Linked DNA regions of Homo sapiens: all the other regions are linked to region 2. Evidence: fine-mapped expression QTL. A gene starts in region 2. Each other region holds a variant in brackets. All regions are shown on one strand. Distances are between the middles of the regions.

Region 1 (5,556 bases), 87 kb after region 2:
TTTGGAAGACAGTTTGGCAGTTTCTTACAAAACTAAACATACTCTATCCATACAGTCCAGCAATTGCAATTCTTGGTATTTACCCAAATGAGCTGAAAACATGTCTACACAAATACCTGCATAGAGAAGTCCATAGCACCTTTATTCATAATTGCCAAAACTTGGAAGCAACCAAGATGTCCTTTAGTAGATGAGTGTCTAAATAAATTGTGGTACATCCAGGCTTTGGAATATTATTCACCATGAAAAAGAAATGAGCTATGAAGCCACAAAAAGGCATACAAAAAACTTAAATTGATATTCCTGCTGAGGCAGGAGGATCACTTCAGCCTAGGAGTTCAAGATCAGCCGAAGCAATATAGTGAGATCTCATCTCTACCAAAACAAAACAAAACAAAAAAACAAGTGAAAGAAGCCAATCTGAAAAGGATACATACTGCGTAACTCAAAGTATATGACACTCTGGAAAAGGCAAAACTATGGGGATAGTAAAAAGATTAGTGGTTGTCAGGAATTGGGGGAAGGGAGGGATGTCAGGAATTGGGGGAAGGGAGCGATGAATAGGCAGAGCAGAGTATTTTTAGGGCAATTAAATTATTTTTTACAATGATAAACACACGTCTTTATATCTTCGTCAAAACCTATCAATTAGAACCAAGTGATCACAGCAGAAAAAAAAAGAAAAAGAAAAAGAAAAAACCCTATAGAATGTACACCGCCAAAAGTGAACCCTAATGTAAACTATGGACTTTGGGTGACAATGATGAGTCAATGTAGGTTCATCAAACATACACCACTGTGGTGTGGGATATTGATTCGGGGAAGGGTGTCCAAGTGTGGGGAAAGGAAAGTGGTATATAAGAACTCTGTTTTCCACTCAATTTTGCTATGAACCTAAAACTGCTCTAAAAGATAAAGTTTATTAATTTTTTAAAAAAAGATTTGCCGCCTCATCCTGTGTTCAATTTTTTTTAAAAAAAATTATATGCGCAGAAAAGGGTTGGTAGAAATATTGCAGAGTTGATATCCAGATAACAAAGAATGTCTATAAGTCAATAAAGAAAAAAATTGTAAACCCTATTTAAAATTTAAAAGTAGGCAGTTCACAGAAAGCACACAAATAGGGAACTTCATTCCTAGGAAGATGGCAGGCTATGTTATTTGTATCAGCACTAAAAACTAAAAATGCTAGATTGTTTAAAATTTTCAAAGCACTGAAAAGCTGAGAATATAAGTCAGCAATCTAAGGAAAAGCCAGAACCTAGAGCAGTAAGGTGAGCATTTAAGCAGCTTTTGCACTGTAGGATAATACCAAGTCTTCAAGTGTACTAACATCCTTATATAAAAAAGAGCAGAGTGAATCAATCCAACTTCAATTTTAGAAAATTAAGTATGCATATTATAGATTTACTAAAACAATAAACAAAGTACATAAACTCCAAACAGTGGGAAAAGAATAGAAAAATAAAAATAATTGCTCTAAAACACCCAAGAATATATTAAAAATAAGTAGAGATGGGTCAAAGGAATCACAAAATGAAATGTTATACTTAAATACAAATAAGGTATATCTGTAATTACATTAAATGAACTAAAATGCTTCCACTGAAAGAGTGAAGTCAGACTACACTTTTTTAAAAATGCAAATATATGCTGCTTATAAGTGACATACCTCAAATTAGAGAAAATGTGAAAATAAAAGGACAGAGAAAATTTTCCTTGTAAATATTAAAAAAGAAAAATATAGTTACAGTAATATCAAAAAATAAATTTTCAGACAAAAAGCATTACTAGAGATTAAAAAAAGAGACAATGACAAAAGAATCAATTCATCTGGAAGCTCTTAATTTGTCTTGATGTACCTAATGACATAACCTTAAAATGTAAAAAGCAAACATTGACAGAACTACAAGGAGAAATAGAAAATACAAAATTATAATAGGAAAGTTTAACATGCTTTTTGTTTTTTTACCAATTGACAGAACAAGCAAACAAAAAGTAGGATATAGACATTTTAAATAAATTGCTGTACTTGACCAAATAATGCCATGTGTGAAAGTAGTGAGTACACACATGCCCTCACACAGAGTACCCATCAATAGCAGAATACATATTCTTGTAAGTGTTCATGCAATATTTATTTTAAAATGACGATCTATGGAGCCAAGAGGATTTCAAAAGGATTGTAATCATAGATAGTGTGTCCTTAGACCACAATGCAATTATGTTAGGAATCAATAATAAAAACTAATATCTCCCTCTCCCTCTCCGTCTCCCCACGGTCTCCCTCTCCCTCTCTTTCCACGGTCTCCCTCTGATGCCGAGCCGAAGCTGGACTGTACTGCTGCCATCTTGGCTCACTGCAACCTCCCTGCCTGATTCTCCTGCCTCAGCCTGCTGAGTGCCTGCGATTGCAGGCGCGCGCCGCCATGCCTGACTGCTTTTCGTGTTTTTTTGGTGGAGACGGGGTTTCGCTGTGTTGGCCGGGCTGGTCTCCAGCTCCTAACCGCGAGTGATCCGCCAGCCTCGGCCTCCCGAGGTGCCGGGATTGCAGACGGAGTCTCGTTCACTCAGTGCTCAATGTTGCCCAGGCTGGACTGCAATGACGTGATCTCGGCTAGCTACAACCTCCACCTCCCAGCCGCCTGCCTTGGCCTCCCAAAGTGCCGAGATTGCAGCCTCTGCCCGGCTGCCACCCCGTCTGGGAAGTGAGGAGCGTCTCTGCCTGGCCGCCCATCATCTGGGATGTGAGAAGCCCCTCTGCCCAGCTGCCCAGTCTGGGAAGTGAGAAGCGCCTCTTCCCGGCCGCCATCCCGTCTAGGAAGTGAGGAGCGTCTCTGCCCGGATGCCCATCGTCTGAGATGTGGGGAGCGCCTCTGCCCCACCGCCCCGTCTGGGATGTGAGGAGCACCTCTGCCCGGCCGCGACCCCATCTGGGAGGTGAGGAGCGTCTCTGCCCAGCCGCCCCGTCTGAGAAGTGAGGAGCCCCTCTGCCCGGCAGCCGCCCCGTCTGAGAAGTGAGGACCCCCTCCGCCCGGCAGCCGCCCCGTCCAGGAGGGAGGTGGGGGGCAGCCCCCGCCCGGCCAGCTGCCCCGTCCGGGAGGGAGGTGGGGGCCAGCCTCTGCCCGGCCGCCGCCCCGTCCGGGAGGTGGGGGGCGCCTCTGCCCGGCCGCCCTTTCTGGGAAGTGAGGAGCCCCTCTGCCCAGCCGCCACCCCGTCTGGGAGGTGTACCCAACAGCTCATTGAGAACGGGCCATGATGACGATGGCAGTTTTGTCGAATACAAAAGGGGGAAATGTGGGGAAAAGATAGAGAAATCAGATTGTTGCTGTGTCTGTGTAGAAAGAAGTAGACATAGGAGACTCCATTTT[G/A]TTCTGTACTAAGAAAAATTCTTCTGCCTTGGGATGCTGTTGATCTGTGACCTTACCCCCAACCCGGTGCTCTCTGAAACATGTGCTGTGTCCACTCGGTTAAATGGATTAAGGGTGGTGCAAGATGTGCTTTGTTAAACAGATGCTTGAAGGCAGCATACTCGTTAAGAGTCATCACCACTCCCTAATCTCAAGTACCCAATGACACAAACACTGCGGAAGGCCGCAGGGTCCTCTGCCTAGGAAAACCAGAGACCTTTGTTCACTTGTTTATCTGCTGACCTTCCCTCCACTATTGTCCTATGACCCTGCCAAATCCCCCTCTGGGAGAAACACCCAAGAATGATCAATAAAAACAAAAACAAAAACAAAAAAAACTAATATATATTTTCCCAAATTTTGAAATTAAGAAACATTCTTCTAAATAACTCATGAGTCCAAGAAGAAATAATAATCAATGAAGAGTTCCTTCTCAGTTTCTAGCATATGATGATTAGAAAAGAGTTCTTAAAAAAATAGTGAAAATGTCCTAGCTTTCTTTAAATAATAATAATGAGGGGCTGGGCATAATGGCTCACACCTGTAATCCCAACACTTTAAGAGGCTGAGATGGAAGGATTCCTTCAGCCCAGGAGTTTGAAACCAGCCTGGGTAACATAGGGAAATCCTATCTCTACCAAAAAAAAAAAAAAAAAAAATTACAAATTAGCTGGCTTTGGTGTCATACACCTGTGGTCCCAGCTACTTGGGAGGCTGAGGTGGGGGATTACTTAAGCCTGGGAAGTCAAGGCTGCAGTGAGCTGTGATTATGTCACTGCACTCCAGCCTGGGCAACAGAGTGAAAACCCTATCTGAGAGAGAGTGAGAGAGTGAGTGAGGGTGAGGGAGAGAGAGAGAGAGACATCTCAAGAAGTTAGAAAGAGAATGGTAGGCAGGGCATGGTGGCTCACACCTGTAATCCTAGCACTTTGGGAGGCTGAGGTGGGTGGGTTACTTGGAGTCAGGAGTTCAAGACCAGCCTGGCCAACATGGTGAAATCCCGTCTCTACCAAAAAACAAAAATTAGCAAGGCATAGTGGGGGTGCCTGTAATCCCAGCTGCTCAGAAGGCTGAGACAGGAGAATCACTTGATCCCAGGAGGCGGAGGTTGCAGTGAGCCGAGATTGCATCACTGCACTCCAGCCTGGATGACAGATGAGACTCTGTTTCAAAAAAAAAAAGAAAAGAAAGAATGGCAAAATAGCCTAAGAAAATAGAAGAAAAACAGATAAGAGCAAAAATTAACGAAATAGCTGGGCCTGATGGCTCACACCTGTAATCCCAGCAATTTGGGAGGCTGAGGCAGGCGGATCACTTGAGGCCAGGAGTTTGAGACCAGCCTGGCCAACATGGTGAAACCCTGTCTCTACTAAAAATATAAAAATTAGCCAAGCATGGTGGCATGCACCTGTAATCTCAGCCACTTGGGAGGCCAAGGCAGGAGAATCACTTGAACCCAAGAGGCAGAGGTTGCAATGAGCCAAAGTCATGCCACTGCACTCCAACCTGGGTGTCAGAGCGAGACTCTGTCAAAAAAAAAAAAAAAAAAAAAAAGGATCAACACAGCCAGAAGTCAGTTCTCTGTAAAAACTAATAAAATTGACCAATCTCTGGACTGAATCATTAAAATACAGAAAGAAGTCACAAACAATATCAGAAATGAATAAGAAGAAATATTAAATGCTATAGGGCCAGATGTGGTGACTCATGCCCATAAACCTAGCACATTAGGAAGCTGAGGGGCAAGGATCACTTGAGCCTGAGTTCAAGACCAACTTGGGCAACATAGTGAGACCCTGTCTCTACAAAAAATAAAAAGTAAAATATTAGCCAGGCTTGGTGGCAGGCACCTGTAGCTCCAGACACTTGGGAGCCCAAGGTGGGAGGATCACTTGAGCCCAGGTGGTCAAGGCTGCAGTGAGCTATAATGGTGCCTCTGCACTTCAGCATGGCTGGCAGAGTGACCCTTTCTCTTTGTCTCTATTTATTTATTTATTATTTAATTAAATGTATTTCATTTATTTCATTTATTACATATAATTTAAAATGCTACAGACATTAAAAATAAAATACTTTTAAAATTTAAATAAAACTGGCTGGGCACAGTAGCTCACGCCTGTAATCCCAGCACTTTGGGAGGCCGAGG
Region 2 (5,556 bases):
AAAGTGCTGGGATTATAGGCATGAGCCACTGTACCCACTCAAAAGCTACATTATCCAGCCAGTATATTGAGTGGTTTTCAGTGGGAAGAGGTATCTAGTCTGCTTTATTGCTGTAGAAGTCTCACATAATGTTAACATTTCTCCAATCCATCTACTTTTCTTAATTCTCACTGATGATGCATCAGTTCATGCATTTATAATTGCTGGCTCTACCCAAATTCTTCCAGTTGCATTCCCTGCTTCCAGTCTCTACCTTACCTCTTTCTCCACCTCTCATCCCTCTAGGCAAGCTGTATCAACAAGGGTCTCAACAAGAAACAGAATTCACAAGATAGTTCACATGAAAATACTTTAATGAAAGGACAAGTTACAGAGGGGTGAGCGGGTATTAAGGGAACAAACGAGATGATGAGGCACTCAGAGACTAGCTACAGAGGAGGTGTTCAAGAGATAAAAGGAGAACATAAAATCACCAGACAGCCCGGGGAAAACTAGAGCCATGGTGAAAGAGCCATCTGGCAGGTACTGTAGTCATGAAGGAATGAAGCTATTGCTGGACATCTGACACTCAAAGAAGGAAGGAGCAAGGAAGAGATGCCCCAATTTCCCTTTCTACCCACCTTCTGATATCCTTGCCTTGGCCTTCTTTATGTCCAACCACAAAGCAGTCCTTAAAGAAACTGAGGTCAACCCTCAGAGGCATAGAGCTTAGCAAAGAAGGGCAGGAAATGAATCTGGGGGGCAAAGAAAATAACCAGCACATTAGTCTTTCTCCGGACTACTTTGAAAGGCCAGTCATCTAAAATGCAAACCTTCTCATACCTTGCACCCTCTTAAAATCTACCAGTGGATTCACATCATCTGTAGGACTAAATCTAAACTGGGATGTGCGACTTTGCCCCTGCTTATGGCTTCATTCCCCAGTTCCTGTCTTAGCCTACGGCCATTGTGAATTATTTCCAAATTCACCAGCATTCTATGCTCTCACACCTCTGTCCTTTGTCCATATTCTTTTCTCTTCCCAAGGCACCTTTCTGCATCTTCTCTGCTTGGCTAACTTCTTCTACTCAACCTTTGAGAATCAAAGACTTAGCTCTAGAATCACCTCCTTCCAAAAGTTTCCTGAAAAGTTTTTCCAGGTGTTTCTATGACTTCCTTATATAATTCCATCATTATACAGATGCTCCTTGAGTTATGTCCTGATAAACCCATTTTAAGTCAAAAATATATGTTGAAAATGCATTTTACTCTAATAAGCCCATTGTAATGAGAAAAAAATCATAAGTTAAACCATCAGTCAGGAACCATCCATTCTTAGTTGAGCGAGTGTCCTTTCTCCCTTGAGAAGAAGGATGTGCATTTTTGTGCATTTTTATGTTTTTTGTTTTTTTTGTTTCTTTTTCTTTTTTTTTTTTTTGAGGCAGGGTCTTGCTCTGTCTCCCAGGCTGGAATGCAATTGTGTAATCTCAGCTCACTATAACCTCCGCCTCCTGGGCGCAAGCCATCCTCCTGCCTCAGCCTCGTGACTAGCTAGGACTACAGGCGCATGCCACACACCCTGCTAATTTTTCTATTTTTTGTAGAGACGGGGTTTCACCATGTTGCCCAGGCTGGTCTCTAAGTCCTGAGCTCAGGTGATCTGCCTGCCTCGGCCTCCCAAAGTGCTGGGATTACAGGTGTGAGCCACTGCGCCTGGTCCATTTTAGCTGTTACCACAACACCCATCACCATTGCTGGCACATGGTAGGCAATCAATAATAATTTTTTTTCAAATTAATACATGAAAACTATTAGGAAAGAAGTAAAAAAATAACATAGCTATAAAGCTCTTTGAATGTTAGGTTATTGGGAAAAGCTGTGGAAAGCCAAGGATTTTCTTTCTCAAATTTATTTTTAGAATATTTTTTTCTACACAAAAGACCACAGATAAGGCAGAGAAAGATAAGAAAAAGACCACAAGCCCAAGGACTTGGAATTTGAATCATAAAGGTTCATTCTAGACTTGGGCAATATCTAGAACTTCTAGAACAATCAGTTTTCTAGAACATAGAAAAGATATTACCTTGGTGTTAGCTTTAACTCCTGCCAAATAATGCTTTAAATTATTTAAACTTTAAAAAGGTGTGTCAATGTATACATTGCAGGTAAATTCATGTTCCAGTAACTTTTGTTTTCTTTGTATGTTAAAAATCTAACTGTGGAAAACATTCTAGCTTGGTTTGAGAGTCCAATAATACAAAATGCTTTATTTCCTAAAATTGTTTGAGAGAAAACCAAAATGCTACCACACTGCAACAAAATACTAAAGAATTATTTGCTATGTCAGTTGACATATTTTTATTTAGATTTTGCCTAAGATGCCACATGAAGCCTATATAAGACATTCTTTCCCTAAAACTTACATATGTATGTACATATATATATATAATGTTTTACATCCTAAACAGTCTACTTCACGTCTTCACCAAATGTGCAGCAGCGTGATTCACAGGTTCACCACTGGAAAATAGACCTTAAAATTCCGCCAATATTGGGTCAAAGATCTTACACTATAACACATACTACACTGTGGGCACGGATCAACAGACGAGAATACTTTATACAGAAGCTTCTCGACGGAAGAAGGCCTTGGAGTGGGAAATCTAAAGGAGGGGACACACTACATGTCCCAGCACACCTTGCGACGCCCAGCGACCACAATTCCCAGAACGCACTGCTCGTCGCACGCAGGTTTTCCTTGTTGCCGGGGTTTGTAGTTCTTCTCGATCGTGTCAGTTTGTAAGGCGAGGGCGGAAGTTGGATTCCTGGCCTGAGAATATTAGGCGTAGTTTTCCAGTTTTTGGCAAAGCGGAAATACTTAAGGCCCCTGGGTTGACTGGGTTCTTTGTTTTATCTACCGGCTTCTGCTTTACGACAGGTAAGTCACGGAGGGGCTACAATTCCTCGCAGCAGGGCCCCACCTTTTATTTCTGGGAGCGACCTCGTTCTGGTGAGGCTATTTGTCCCTAAGCTCTCGCCGTAGCAGCCGCCGCCCATCCCTCTTTGTGTGCTTTGGAAAGCCGCGGAGCTGGTGGTGGCTACAGTTGGTGTTGGGGGCTTAGGCGAGGGACGTTACCGGGAAGTTGCAGGCGGGAGGACTCTTCCCCATCCAGTCACCTGACAGGTGGGTTGACTGTTCTTCCCTCAAGGCCTCCCTGCCTGTGTTCCACGTCGCAACTCGAAGGGCGGCTTGGCAGTTCCTGCTGACATCCCCGCCCGGCCCAGCTTTGGGGAGGAAAGGCGGGGAGACCTGGGTGCGGTGACTCATTGCGGCCCGGCGAGAGGAGTCCACTCCTTTCCCTTCTCGACCCTCCAGAGGCGGCCTGGGGAGCCTTGAGGCTTGTCCGGCGCCCACTGGCTTCTTCCGGACGCCCTGCCGTGGACCGCGCCCTCTTGGCCGTGACCCCAGGGGAGAAAGTGATTCGTTTTCGCCTTGCCCCATTTTACAAATTAAGGCCATCTCTACTTGCCTTGATAGTGTCTCCCCTCACCTTATGTGTGATGGAAAGCCCCCGAACACGGAGGTTCTAGCACAAAACTCTAGAGACTCTCTTCTCTTGAGTTTTAAGAACGTGAACATGTCGGTCATGGAGGAAGGCTCTGGCTTCTGTGAGGATGAGAGGATTGGTCAGCTGTAGTTCAGCTGGTCAAGACTTTGTTGTTGGGCTTTAAAAATGCGCTTATTTTAATATCAATTAGTGTTGGTATATCTGTTTTACAGTTGACGTTGAACAAAATATAATGTGCCTAGCGTAGCATACAGTTACGTATGGAAGTTCTCTTCACCAGCCGTTTGTATGGAGCTGTTTAGAGGTGTAGAAAGAGTGGAATAAGAAACACGGTCTCTTGCTTTTAGTTTGTTCAAACAAATCTTGGAAGATATTGTGTATATATTTCAGGTCTGCTATGTCAACTTTTCATCCTTTTCGTATGCTTGAAAATTATCAATTCGCTTGCCAGTCTTAATGGAGTTTAGTAGCTGAAATTTCCTTTATCCACTTCTTAGTAGGTGAATTTCTCCTCTTGACTGACTTACCTTTGTTCAGATTTAACAATTGTGCTTTTTAAGAGATTTCCCCTAACCTCTGGAAATACAGTTTTCCAGAGGTTATTCTCCTAGTTTTCTTGATCTAAAGCATTTAATACTTCACTTGTACAGAGACATTGAAAGAGATTGATCATTAGGCAATAAGTCAATCATGTGGAGAAGGTAAGGAGTTCCTGGCTCCTGCCTTATGCTCAGCTGCTAGGCTACTTAAAAAAAAAAAATCCTAATTCATTATTTCTTCCTAAAACTCAAGCTGAAGTAGTGTTTATGCAATTGGTTTTTGAAGCTCAGATTGTAATTGTGTCTACCGTATCCATTATTCATTAGCCAGTGTCAATTGTAATGTTAAGGTCATTCTGCTGGATGTTGTGAAGGCAACAAAAATAACTAAAAAACAGTCCCTGATTTCAAGTACATTACAATCTAATAGGGAACATTTCAGGTATGTCCACAAATAATTGTACTAAAAGTGCCATCAGAGGTATACGTAAGGTGTTATTGTGGAGAAATACAGTCATATGATTTGATAGCTAATGATGGTAACTCCTGCGTTTTGCTTTAGTATTACTACAGCACTTTTAGAACTTACAGGAAAGTTCAGTTTGACCTATTGTTTTTTATCAAGTTTCTATGAATGCAATAGAATTGGTAATAGTTTTGATCTGTGTCATATAGCTTAAGAGCTTCTAAATGCCAAACCATGTCCTCTGTTTTAAGAGCCAGTTTTGACCTTTATCTTGGGTACCTAATATATTGTCATCAAAAACTTTGAGACATTGTGTTCAGTTTGTGTATGCGAACATTAAAGTGCTTACTATGGGCTAGCTACTATGCTCAGCTCTAGGTAATATTTATTATATATATTTGTTTATACATTTTTTAAGTCTTAGTAATAATATATATGCTTCCTTTATTTTATCTTTTAAAAGTTTATTTTTTAGAGACGCTCTGTTGCCCAAGCTGGAGTGCAGTGGCATGATCACGGCTCACTGCAGCCTTGACTTCCTGGGCTCCAGCAATCCTTCCAAGTAGTTGGGACTACAGGCACATGCCACCATGCCGCCTAATTTTTTATTTTTCTTGCCTTTTTTTTTTTTTTTTTTTTTTTTGTAGAGATGGGGTCTTGCTTTGTTGCCCAGGCTGGTCTCAAACTCATGGCCTGAAGCAGTTCTCCCACTTTAGCCTCCCAAAGTAAGCTACTGCCCAGCCCCATTATTTTAAAAGTAAGGTTTTTGTGCTTTTTTGAGATAGCATTGAACTATATGGCCTTTCGGGACAGTTCTCTTCTTGGAACACTAGTTTTTTCAACTGTGCTGCTTTTACTAACATAATGATTATATGTTTCTAAGGTCACAAACATGTCAGACAAAAGTGAATTAAAGGCTGAGTTGGAACGTAAGAAGCAGCGACTGGCCCAAATCAGAGAGGAAAAGAAGAGAAAAGAAGAAGAAAGGAAAAAAAAAGAAGTA
Region 3 (5,556 bases), 120 kb after region 2:
CACAAGGATGACTCTCTGAAAACATGTTAAACAAAAGAAGCCAGCCATGAAAGAATGCATCTCGTGCACTCCATTTACATGAAATCCAAGAACAACAAAACTTCAGACAGAAATCAGAAGTGTGGTTGCATGGGGTAAGGGAGAAGGGACTGAATGGAAAGACGCATGAACGACTTTTCTGGGGTGAAATGTTCATTATCTTAGGTGGTGATTACATGGGTGTATACAACTGTCAAAACTCATTGAGCTGAATATCTAAAATCTGTTCCTTTTAAAAATGTTAATTATACCTAAAAAACCAAATATGTAAATATGTCATATTCATACACTTATTAAAGGAAGGAAGGAAAGAGGCAAGAAAGTCACTATAAAGTTGAATAGTGTCATCTAGATTTATTTTGACACAATCAATGATTTGATTCCCCCAAAAGGACATCATAGAATAAAAGGACTTGGTCTAAAAAAATCAGAATACTTGGGTTCACATGAAACCTCCAGCATATATTAGCTGTGTAAATTGGGGTAAGAGAGTTAGCCTTTTTGGACTTCTGTTTCTCATCTACCTATTTTATAGAGGGTGACAATAATGCATAATAATGTACTTTGAAAATTCTAGGTTGACATTAAGGTACTATTTTTGCCCACAATAGATATCATAATCAAACATTCAATTATATTTGTGTCTTCGAATAAACATACATTTGTACATATAAATATTATATATAAACACATATATACAGGTGGTCCCCAACTTAACAATGATACAACTTATGGTTTTTTGACTTTACAATGGTGCAAAAGCAATATGCATTCAGTAGAAACAATACTTCAAGTACTCATACAGCCTGTTTTTCACTTTCAGTACAGTATTCAATAAATTACATGAGATATCCAATACTGTATTATAAAACAGGCTTTGTGTTTTATGATTTTGCCCAATTATAGGCTAACATAAGTGTTCTGAGCATGTTTTAGGTAGGATAGGCTAAGCTATGACATTCAGAAGGTTAGGTGTATTAAGTGCACTGTTGACCTAAAAATTTCCAACTCATGATAGGTTTATTACAATGTAACCTCATTGGAAGTCGAGGAATATCTGGATCTGTGTGTGTGTGTGTGTGTGTGTGTGTGTGTGTGTGTGTGTGTACAGAAAGACAGAAATTTTCTAATAGAAAAATAAACATATGGTCTGATAAGAATGGTTTACCTATGAGAATAACAGGAAAAATTATTTAAAACCTACTGTTACATATTTAATACTCATACAACACTCAACATTCATAAGAGATATTTACTGAGCAACTGTATACACACACATACAATCTTACCCCATCTCCACCTAAAAAAGGGTCAAGCAATTTTAAAAAATTATTATTATTTGTAGAGATGGGGGGTCCCACTATGTTGCACAAGCTGGCCTTGAACTCCTAGGCTCAAGCCATCTTCCCACCTCAGCCTTCCAAAGTGTGGAGGTTACAGTCATGAGCCACCACACCTAGCCAAGGTCAGGCAATTTAACCTAGAGTTCAATTTATAGATACTACAAACAAATAAACAAAAAACATGTTGGGATAGCACATCCAAGTTATCATAAATTCTGAATGAGTAAGTTTGTTTGAGAAGATTTTGATATAGATACAAAACACAAGTTTGGTTAATGTTCACAATGAGATTTAAAAATCTGAAAATGGGCCAGGCACTGTGGCTCACACCTGTAATCCCAGCACTTTGGGAGGCTGAAGTGGGTGGATCACGAGGTCAGAAGATCGAGACCATCCTGGCTAACACGGTGAAACCCCGTCTCTACTAAAAATACAAAAAATTAGCCAGGCCTGGTGGCGGGTGCCTGTAGTCCCAACTACTCGGGAGGCTGAGGCAGGAGAATGGCGTGAACCCGGGAAGCGGAGCTTGCAGTGAGCCAAGATCACGCTACTGCACTCCAGCCTGGGCGACAGTGCGAGACTCTGTCTCGAAAAAATAAAAATAAAAATAAAAATCTGAAAATGCACAATCTGTTTATACTACTATTCCCAAAGGTTATATACTACTTCTAAAATAAGACATTCCACTGTGACTCCCTCTTTCCTGTAGTAAGTGAGAGTTGCTTGCATTTCCAATCAGGAAGTCAGAGTCAACAAAACTTCCATCTGGTTTTAAAAAGTGTGTGTGTGTGTGTGTGTACACATGTGCACACATATGTCTATGCATAAGAGCATGTACACATGTATATGAAAACATTAGAAGGAAATACACCAAAACATTAGCAATCAAAACTAAAACAAAACTGACATTTAGTAATATCTCTCTCTGTTCAAGGCAAAAAAAAAAAACCTAAAAAACTTAGGCTTAAAAATCGGAAAAGACCTAGATGTAAAAGCTAAAACTATAAAACTCTGAAAAGAAAAAAGGAGGCATACATATAAAGTCAATTTCTATATACCAGAAAAAAAAGGCATACATCTTTCATGATCTTGGATTAATGACTTCTTAGATATAACACCAAAAGCACAAACAACAAAAGAAAAAATAGATTAAAC[G/A]AACTTCATTAAAGCCCAATTCTTCAAAAGACATCATCAAGAAAATAAAAAATATCTGAAAAGGGACTCATATCTAGAATATACAAAGAACTCTGTAACCAAAAAACAATCCAATTTAAAAATAGGCAAAAATTCTGAATAGACATTTTTTCAAAGAAGATATACAAGTGGTCAATATGCACACAAAAAGATGCTCAACATTGTCAGTCATTAGGCCACAATAAGGTATCACTTTTCACTCAGTAAGATGGCTATAGTAAAAAGACAATAAGAAGTGTTATCAAAGATGTGGAAAGTAGCTGTGCATGATGGCACATGCCTGTAGTCCCAGCTACTCAGGAGGATGGGGCAGGAAGATCACTTGAGGCCAGGAGTTCGAGGCTGTAGCATGTGATGTTCACACCTGTGAACAGTCACTGCACTCTCAGCTTGGGCAACATAGTGAGACGCTACCATTATTTAAAAAAATACACACACACACACACACACACGCGCGCACACACATACTAGCAAAGATGTAGAGAAATCAGAAGCTTCACACTACTAGTAGGGATGCAAAAGGATGTAGCCACTTTGAAAAACAGTCTGGCAGTCCTGAAAATGCTAATTACAGTTGTCATATGACACACCAATTCCACTCATACGTATATACCCAAGAGAAATGAAAACATGTCCATGCAAAACCTTATATACCAATATTCATAGCAGCATTATTCATAAGTCAAAAGGTAGAAACAACTCAAATGTTTATCAACTAATGAATGAACAAACTGTAGTATATCCATATATTCAGCAATAAAAATGAATTAAGTACTGATACATGCTACAACACAGATGAACCTTGAAAACACGCTAAGTGAAAAAAGTTAGGCACAATGTCATGCTTACAAAAGGCCACATATCATGATTCCTTATTTATTTATTTATTTATTTTGAGACAGAGTCTCTCTCTGTTGCCCAGGCTGGAGTGCAGTGGGCACAATCTCTGCTCATTGCAACCTCCGCCTCCCAGGCTCAAGTGATTCTCCTGCCTCAGCCTCCCAAGTAGCCAGGATTAAAAGCACCTGCCACCACGCCTGGCTAATTTTTGCATTTTTTATAAAGATGGGGTTTCACACCATGTTGGCCAGGCTGGTCTCAAACTCCTGACCTCAAGTGATCCACACACCTCAGCCTCCCAAAGTGCTGGAATTATAAGCATGAGCCACCACGCCCAGCCTCCATTTATATAAAATATTCAGAATTGGTGAATTTGTAAAAACAGAAAGTATATTAATAGTTGCCTAGAGGCCAAGTGCAGTGGCTCGTATCTGTAACTCTAGTACTTTGGGAGGAGGAGGCAGAAGGATTGCTTGAGGCCAGGAGCTCAAGGCCAGCCTGGCCAAGTAAGACCCTGTCTCTATGAAAAACTTAAAAATTAGCTGAGGGTGGTGGCACACACCTGCAGTCCTAGCTACTCATGAAGCTGAGGTGGGAGGATTGCCTGAGCCGGCAGTTCAAGGTTGCTGTGAGCCTTGATCGCACCACTGCACTCCTGCCTGGGCAATACAGTTGCCTAGATCTTACGGATGGGATGGGAAGATTGAGAAGTGATAGCTAAAAGGTACTGCATTTCTTTCTGTGTTGATAAAAATGTTCTAAAATTGATTGTGGTGATGGTTTCACAACAAAACACTGAATTATACACATTAAATGGGGGAGTTGTATGGTACGTTAAGTATATCTCAATAAAGCTGTTATTTTTTCTGTTTTTTTGTTTTGTTTTGTTTTTTGTTTTTTTTTTTTGAGACAGAGTCTCACTCTGTTGCCCAAGCTGGAGTGCAGTGGCACGATCACAGCTCACTGCAACCTCCACCTCCTGGGTTCAAGCGATTCTCCTACCTCAGCCTCCCAAGTAGCTGGGACTGTAGGAACGCGCCACTTCACCTGGCTAATTTTTTTGTATTTTCAGTAGAGACGGGGTTTCACTATGTTGGCCAGGCTGGTCTCGAACTCCTGACCTCAGGTGATCCACTTGCTTCGGCCTCCCAAAGTACTGGGATTACAGGCGTGAGCCACCGCCCCCGGCCTAAAGGTGGTATTTTTAAAATTTGCATGAAAGATATCAGGTATTCAATGAGTAAGTGAATATATGAAAGAACAAATGAAAACCTATATCAAGTGTGAAAGAATATGGATTTGGAGATAGAAGTGGTTTGAACCACAATTTTGATATTTACTAAGTCAAAATTTGGATTTCACTAAGGTTTTAGTTTTTTCAACTCTAGTTGGGAACAATAATGAGATAATCCCTATAAAATGTTCAGCCCAGTAAGAAAGGTATCTATTCCTCATTAGCTGATTCAAGCTACATCAAAAGCAATAATCATCATCAACAATAGTAGTAACGTTTTAGTTAAGTTGGGTGCTAGAAGCATGGATGCTCATTTTATTATTCTGTAATTATATTGTTTGTATTCTTTTGCATGTATCAAAAATCACAGGCCTTGGCCAGCCTGGTGACTCACACCTGTAATCCCAAAACTAGGAGGCCAAGGCAGGTGGGTTGCTTGAGCCCAGGAATTCGAGACCAGCCTGGGCAACATGATGAAACCCCATCTCTACAAAAAATACAAAAATTAGCAGAGGATGGTGGCATGCACCTGTAGTCCCAGCTACTGGGGAGGCTGAGAGATGGGAGGAGCCCTTGAGCCCAGGAGTTGTCAAGGCTGCAGTGAGCTGAGATCGCACCACGCCACTCCAGCCTGGGCAACAGACTGAGATCCTGTCTCAAAAAAGAAGAAAAACAAACAAACAAAAAAACAAAAATCACATGCCTTTAAAAACAGATCATAAAGACCGGGTGTGGTGGCTCACGCCCGTAATCCCAGCACTTTGGGAGGCCGAGGCCGGTGGATCACCTGAGGTCGGGAGTTTGAGACCAGCCTAACATGGAGAAACCCCAGCTCTACTAAAAATACAAAATTAGCCGGGTGCAGTGGCACATGCCTGTAATCTCAGCTACTAGGGAGGCTGAGGC
Region 4 (5,556 bases), 340 kb after region 2:
TTGCATGAAGTTTTCTTATCCCTCACTTTCCAGGTAGCAGTGGAATTTACTCTCTACCTTCTGTTGTGTCTGCTCATGTGACAAGTTCTTTTGGTAAGAAAGTAAAGTCTAAACTATAAAAGTTAAACTCTGAAAGAAGAAAATTCAGGTGCAAAGTGACAAGGATTTCACCAGACTGAAGAGACCTAAAGAAAGGGAGGGCCAGATCCCTCAGCTGCAAGTCTCTTGATTTGGTGAGGGATTAAATGTGCTAGGTCCCCTGGTACTAGTGGGGGCTGGGGTTTCAGACCTCACGGAGTTGCCATTCTGATGGGGAAACAATAGACGCAATTAGACAAACAAACATGATAACTTCAAAATGAGAAACGTGCGTTTAGGGAAATAAACAAAGCTAAGAGGGTGCCAGTAACTAGGGGGGACCACTTTAGAGAGAGAGGTCCCAGAAGGCCTGCTGATGAAGTGACATTTGAGCTGAGGCTCAAAGGCCATGAATGGGCCAGTGATGTGAGAACTTGGTGAAAGAGCAAATGCAGAGCCCAGAAAGGGCTTAGTGTCTCTGAGGAGCAGAAAGGGGGCCCCTGTGGCTGGCGGCAGTGAGTGACAGGAGGGTGGAGTGCCAGGAGGCCAGAGGGAGGTGGGGTCAGACCATTGCAGGCCCTCAAGGCCATAATGGGAAGTTGAAACTATGTTCAAAAAGCAGTGGATAAACATTGAAGAGTTTGAAGCAGGAAAACTTAGTAATTATTCTCACCTAGACTTTTTTTCCTACACATGAGCAGACTTCTGTATGTGTGTCTGTGTGTGTGTGTGTGTGTGTGTGTGTGTGTGTGTGTGTGTGTGTGTGTGTGTTTTCTTAGTGGTAACATGCTGTGTATATAATATGCAACTTGTTTTTCATTTACCAATAATATCTTGGTCATCTCTGAAAGGAAGACTTATAAAGAAAAATAAGGTTTGCCACGAACTATATAACAAATTTAGACATGCAAAAATGTGAAGCTGTGATGGAAAATTAGTTTCTTAGGAATAAAAAAGGAAGGAGAGTGCTTGTTTTTAATGTCTGTTATACCTATGAATTCCCTGTAATAATTTAAGGACATTAAAAATGTATTCTAACTTGATTCTTGATTTTCTCATAAACTTGCCATGATTAGTATGTTACTTTAATTATGTATTTATTGTTAAAGCATCTTTACACACCATTTTTAGTCTTCTAAAATATAGCAGAGACTGAACAAAGTAGGAAAATAGAAGAATAAGAATTCAGTAGACATGCATGGTCAAACCATAACAAACCCAAAGATACTGAGACTCTAGAGAGAATGTGTCACCTTTCAAAGTACTGCTTACTATTGCCAGTAGTTATAAATGTACTTATTAGCTGGGCATGGTGGTTTACGCCTGTAATCCCAGCGCTTTGGGAGGCTGAGGCAGGAGGATTGCTTATCTCTGGAGTTTGAGACCAGCCTGAGCAACTAGGTGAAAACCTGTCTCTACTAAAAATAGAAAAATTAGCCAGGCCTAGTGGCATGTGCCTGTGGTAGTGCACGCCTGTGGTCCCAGCTACTTTGAAGGCTGAGGTGGGAGAATTGCTTGAACCCAGGAGGCTGAGTTTGCAGTAAGCTGAGATCACACCACTGCACTCCAGCATAAGGGATAGAGCCAAACCTTGTCTCAAAGAAGAAGTACTTATTTATTTGCTTTTAAAATATACTTTTGTGAAAAGATATACCTAAAATCCCCAGCACATTTTAGTTCTTGCCCATTTACAAAATAGTATATAGACAAAAGCCTGACTAAGAGAAACTGTCAATATTACAGCGAAACAGAGATAGGGATTGTTTTCTGGTCTTAGAGTTACCATAACATGAGCATCTGTGGTGAGCAAATATTTTCCAGAAAAGCAGGTGAATGAAAAAACTATAGCCCACAAAAATAACCGCCTCAAACTCATGATCCCTAATGTAGGCTCATTTTTAAGTCTACATTTTATTTTTATTTCTACTTACTTACTTATTTATTTTTTGAGACAAAGTCTCACTCTGTTGCCCAGGCTAGAGTGCAGTGGCACCATCTCAGCTCACTGCAACCTCCATCTCCCAGGTTCAAGCAATTCTAATGCCTCAGCTTCCCTAGTAGCTGGGATTTACAGGCATGCGCCACCACATCCAGCTAATTTTTGTATTTTTAGTAGAGATGGGGTTTCACTATGTTGGCCAGGCTGGTCTCAAACTCCTGACTTCAAGTGATCCACCCGCCTGGGCCTCCCAAGGTGCTGGGATTACAGACATGAGCCGCTGCACCCGGCCTTTAAGCCTACATTTTATTTTATTTTATTTATTTATTTATTTATTTTTTTTGAGGCAGAGTTTCACTCTTGTTGCCCAGGCTAGAGTGCAATGGTGTGATCTCGGCTCACCACAACCTCCACCTCCTGGGTTCAAGCAATTCTCCTGCCTCAGACTCCTGAGTAGCTGGGATTACAGGCATGTGCCACCATGCCTGGCTAATTTTTTTTTATTTTTATTAGAGACGGGGTTTCTTTATGTTGGTCAGGCTGGTCTCGAACTCCCGATCTCAGGTGATCTGCCCACCTCGGCCTCCCAAAATACTGGGATTACAGGCGTGAGCCACCACACCTGGCGTAAGCCTACATTTTTAAAAAAATGTATTGCAGAGGTGGAAATGAACTAAAGTAGGCATGAAGTAAGGGTCGAGGTCCAAGGGTGTGTGACACAACATTGCTACCATGTTATAGAGGGATATTCTAAACAAAATCTCTGCATTCTTACCCCATGAACCCTATCTTCAGCCTTTACCACTGGAAAGCATCTTTCTAAATTCAAATCCTTGATTTGCTTCTGGTTTTGTAATAAAGTCATGAGCAATAGGAATGCAGCCAGCAATTACGTTTCTGCTTTTGTCTTAAATTGGAGACCATGGAGCGACATCAATTCGCAGGAAATATACTGTTTCTTAAGAAAGTC[T/G]TTCATTTAACTTTCTTCTGTACTTAAAATTGGAAATATATTTAGCTTCTCTAAATATTTAGTTGTATGTGAACCAGTTGTTAAAGAATGTCTTAATTCTACAGTTAAGCTCACTCACATGTATGTATGTCTCATACATTAAAAATGTCATCCTGCTGTGTAGTTTTAAGAAATTACTTTTCAGAAGTAAAGACTTTAGGTATGATAATGATAATTTAGGAAATGATAATTTAGGAAAATTTTCTCAAGTACTCATCATTTTTAAAAATTCATAATTCAGAAATATTTTATTGGGAGACTAAAGACATTTATAGTATTTTCCCCCAGAGTGTCATATTTTTATAAAACAGGTTATTATTAACAAATGATATAATTTGAAATAATTGGAAAGGTCCACTGGCCCTAAAATATGTCCCCTACAGCCTTCTTGGAACATAAAATGTCCAACTACGTATTAGAATTTTCTTTGGGTTAATGGAGTATCCTCATAAAGGCTTAGTTTAATAGGAGTTATCACTCTGGGTTTTGCCAAGATTGCTTTAGAAGGAATGAGTTGGGTATGTTTTCAGTAGTCTTGGTGAAGACCCCAGAGGAAGAGCAGAGGGTAGGGATCTTGGTGGGAGAGAAGGGAGACACTCCCCTACCAGGGGCTCCAAAAGAGGGCTTTAGGTTGTAGGAAAGGTGGGCAAAGCCTGTCCTTTATAATAATAAAATGTTTAGTTAGAGGGGAGCCATATTTAAAACTATAGCACTAGACTTATCTCAGTTGTAAAATGGATATTATATAATAAGATGGAGGAAGTCATTCACATATGCTTTCTCTCTCTTTTTGAGCACAATACCAAAGTGTTTCCAGAATAATTTGGCACCTTCACTTCCTGCACAGACTTGGAGTAGAGTCCAGAAAACAGTCTAGTTGAATTCTCAGATGGGTTTTTGGCAAGAATACAAAGTAGCTTTATACAGCTCATCTCTGATGCTTTTCACTGAGTGTCTGAAAGAAAAGGGAGGATTTGAGGACCTGATTTAAACAAGGAAGTAACCCAGTGACTTAAAGAGGAGTGTTGTGGAATTCGAATCCCAAAATAAAGCCCTACGTCGTTGACTTTTCAGCCATGGGAATAACCAGTTGCTTCATTGTGTGTTTTGTCAAAGTGCCTCAGCCATTTGGTCGGCCTGATGGTTACCTGCTGCCTCTATTCATAGTTTCTGCGTCCTTTCTTGTTGCCCGGCTGGTCAAACATGTGTAACGGTGCCCTGGGGCACCAAGCATGCCCTCGGGGAGCTAAATGCTGCCAGATGTAGGGAGCAAGGGTTGATTCACATAGCCATAATTTCAATAGCTAATTTTACCTGTTTTCTTTTGGTTTTGGGTTTCCTTCTTAAAGAAAAACCCATTTGGAGTTGAGTTTTTCCCCCTTTAAATTGCAGTCTTATCTTGTTACCTCTAATCTCCCAGCCTCATCCCACTCCCGAAATAAAAGTGTGAGAAGAAAAGAATAGAAAAGATACGTGATTTATTAAGTCTGAGAGATTAATAGTTTTACTTTATGATAAAATCAGTAAAATGTTTCTGTTTTACTGGATTCTGATTAGTATTCTTATTTCAAAGTGAAATTATGTTTCACTTGACTCAACCTTCCCTGTAGAAATCATTTAGATAGAAATAGATCATCTTCTAGATAGATACTTTATGTAATCTCTGATTAGGAACACTGAATTTGTTGTTGAAAGCCCTATATTTTTTAACTCACTCTTGAAAACTGGTTAAGTAGAAGGAAAGAATCAAGCCCTTAACTTGATATATCCTGTATGGAACTGAACCTCAGGATGACCAAATATTTGATGAAAGAAAGTTTCTCTTTTTAGAAGTATTTCTGCCAACAAATTAAGAAGGTCTGAGAGAATATCACCATTTGGCAAACCCCTCGTGAAATAATGAATCTATCTACTGGTCATCAATGGTTGCTAACATCACAAAAAGAGCCACAGCTATCAGAGCACACCACTGTCCATTAAATATTCTTGCCAAAAAAATTGAACTTGAGGCCGGGCGTGGTGGCTCACGCCTGTAATCCCAACACGTTGGGAGGCCGAGGCAGGTGGATCACGAGGTCAGGCGATGGAGACCATCCTGGATAACACGGTGAAACCCCATCTCTACTAAAAATAAAAATTAGCTGAGCCTGGTGGCGGGCGTCTGTAGTCCCAGCTACTCGGGAGGCTGAGGCAGGAGAATGGCGTGAACCCGGGAGGTGGAGCTTGCAGCGAGCTGAGATCACACCACTGCACTCCAGCCTGGGCGACAGAGCAAGACTCCATCTCTAAATAAATAAATAAATAAATAAATAAAAATAAAAAAATCAAACTTGAATCAGAACAAATCCCTAGATTTAATATGTCTACAGGAAATACAAAGGACAGAGAAACATATTAATTGACACCACCAAGATACAACTGGTAAGTTACAGAATGTGAGAAGTGCTAGGGACAAATTCATTTTCTTAACAAATAATTTACGAGAAAGAAAAAAGGGAGGAATTCATTAAAACTGGCATAAGAGACATAG

Which allele goes with the higher level. Positions count from the first base shown, and alleles are read on the strand shown. Sizes are in standard deviations (SD) of each study's normalised expression. Not every link is listed here.
For the expression in skeletal muscle of the gene that starts at base 2,759 in region 2, allele G in region 3 goes with a higher level than allele A (moderate effect, 0.51 SD a copy in GTEx).
For the expression in lung of the gene that starts at base 2,759 in region 2, allele T in region 4 goes with a higher level than allele G (small effect, 0.27 SD a copy in GTEx).

Evidence for each region. PIP is the estimated chance that this variant, and not a neighbour inherited with it, causes the effect. A credible set is the group of variants that fine-mapping cannot tell apart.
Region 1: its variant is the best candidate, but not a certain one, in a credible set for the expression of DYNC1I2 in whole blood (INTERVAL, PIP 0.75).
Region 3: its variant is the best candidate, but not a certain one, in a credible set for the expression of DYNC1I2 in skeletal muscle (GTEx, PIP 0.53).
Region 4: its variant is the best candidate, but not a certain one, in a credible set for the expression of DYNC1I2 in lung (GTEx, PIP 0.51).

Annotation. Positions count from the first base shown.
Region 1 is chr2:171,771,796-171,777,351 of GRCh38, forward strand. No RefSeq gene overlaps it. Among named protein-coding and RNA genes, the nearest start is that of DYNC1I2, 87 kb to the left of the region's middle. RefSeq lists an enhancer at 3,474-4,093. The variant G/A (reference allele first, on the strand shown) is at 3,372.
Region 2 is chr2:171,684,711-171,690,266 of GRCh38, forward strand. It overlaps DYNC1I2 (dynein cytoplasmic 1 intermediate chain 2), which reads left to right and starts at 2,759. Exons shown (of 18, transcript NM_001378.3): 1 at 2,759-2,917; 2 at 5,437-5,553. The coding sequence starts at 5,446. RefSeq lists an enhancer at 2,760-2,929.
Region 3 is chr2:171,800,805-171,806,360 of GRCh38, forward strand. The region is part of intron 13 of SLC25A12 (solute carrier family 25 member 12); the gene reads right to left. Among named protein-coding and RNA genes, the nearest start is that of SLC25A12, 91 kb to the right of the region's middle. The variant G/A (reference allele first, on the strand shown) is at 2,538.
Region 4 is chr2:172,027,747-172,033,302 of GRCh38, forward strand. The region is part of intron 1 of METAP1D (methionyl aminopeptidase type 1D, mitochondrial); the gene reads left to right. Among named protein-coding and RNA genes, the nearest start is that of METAP1D, 31 kb to the left of the region's middle. The variant T/G (reference allele first, on the strand shown) is at 2,988.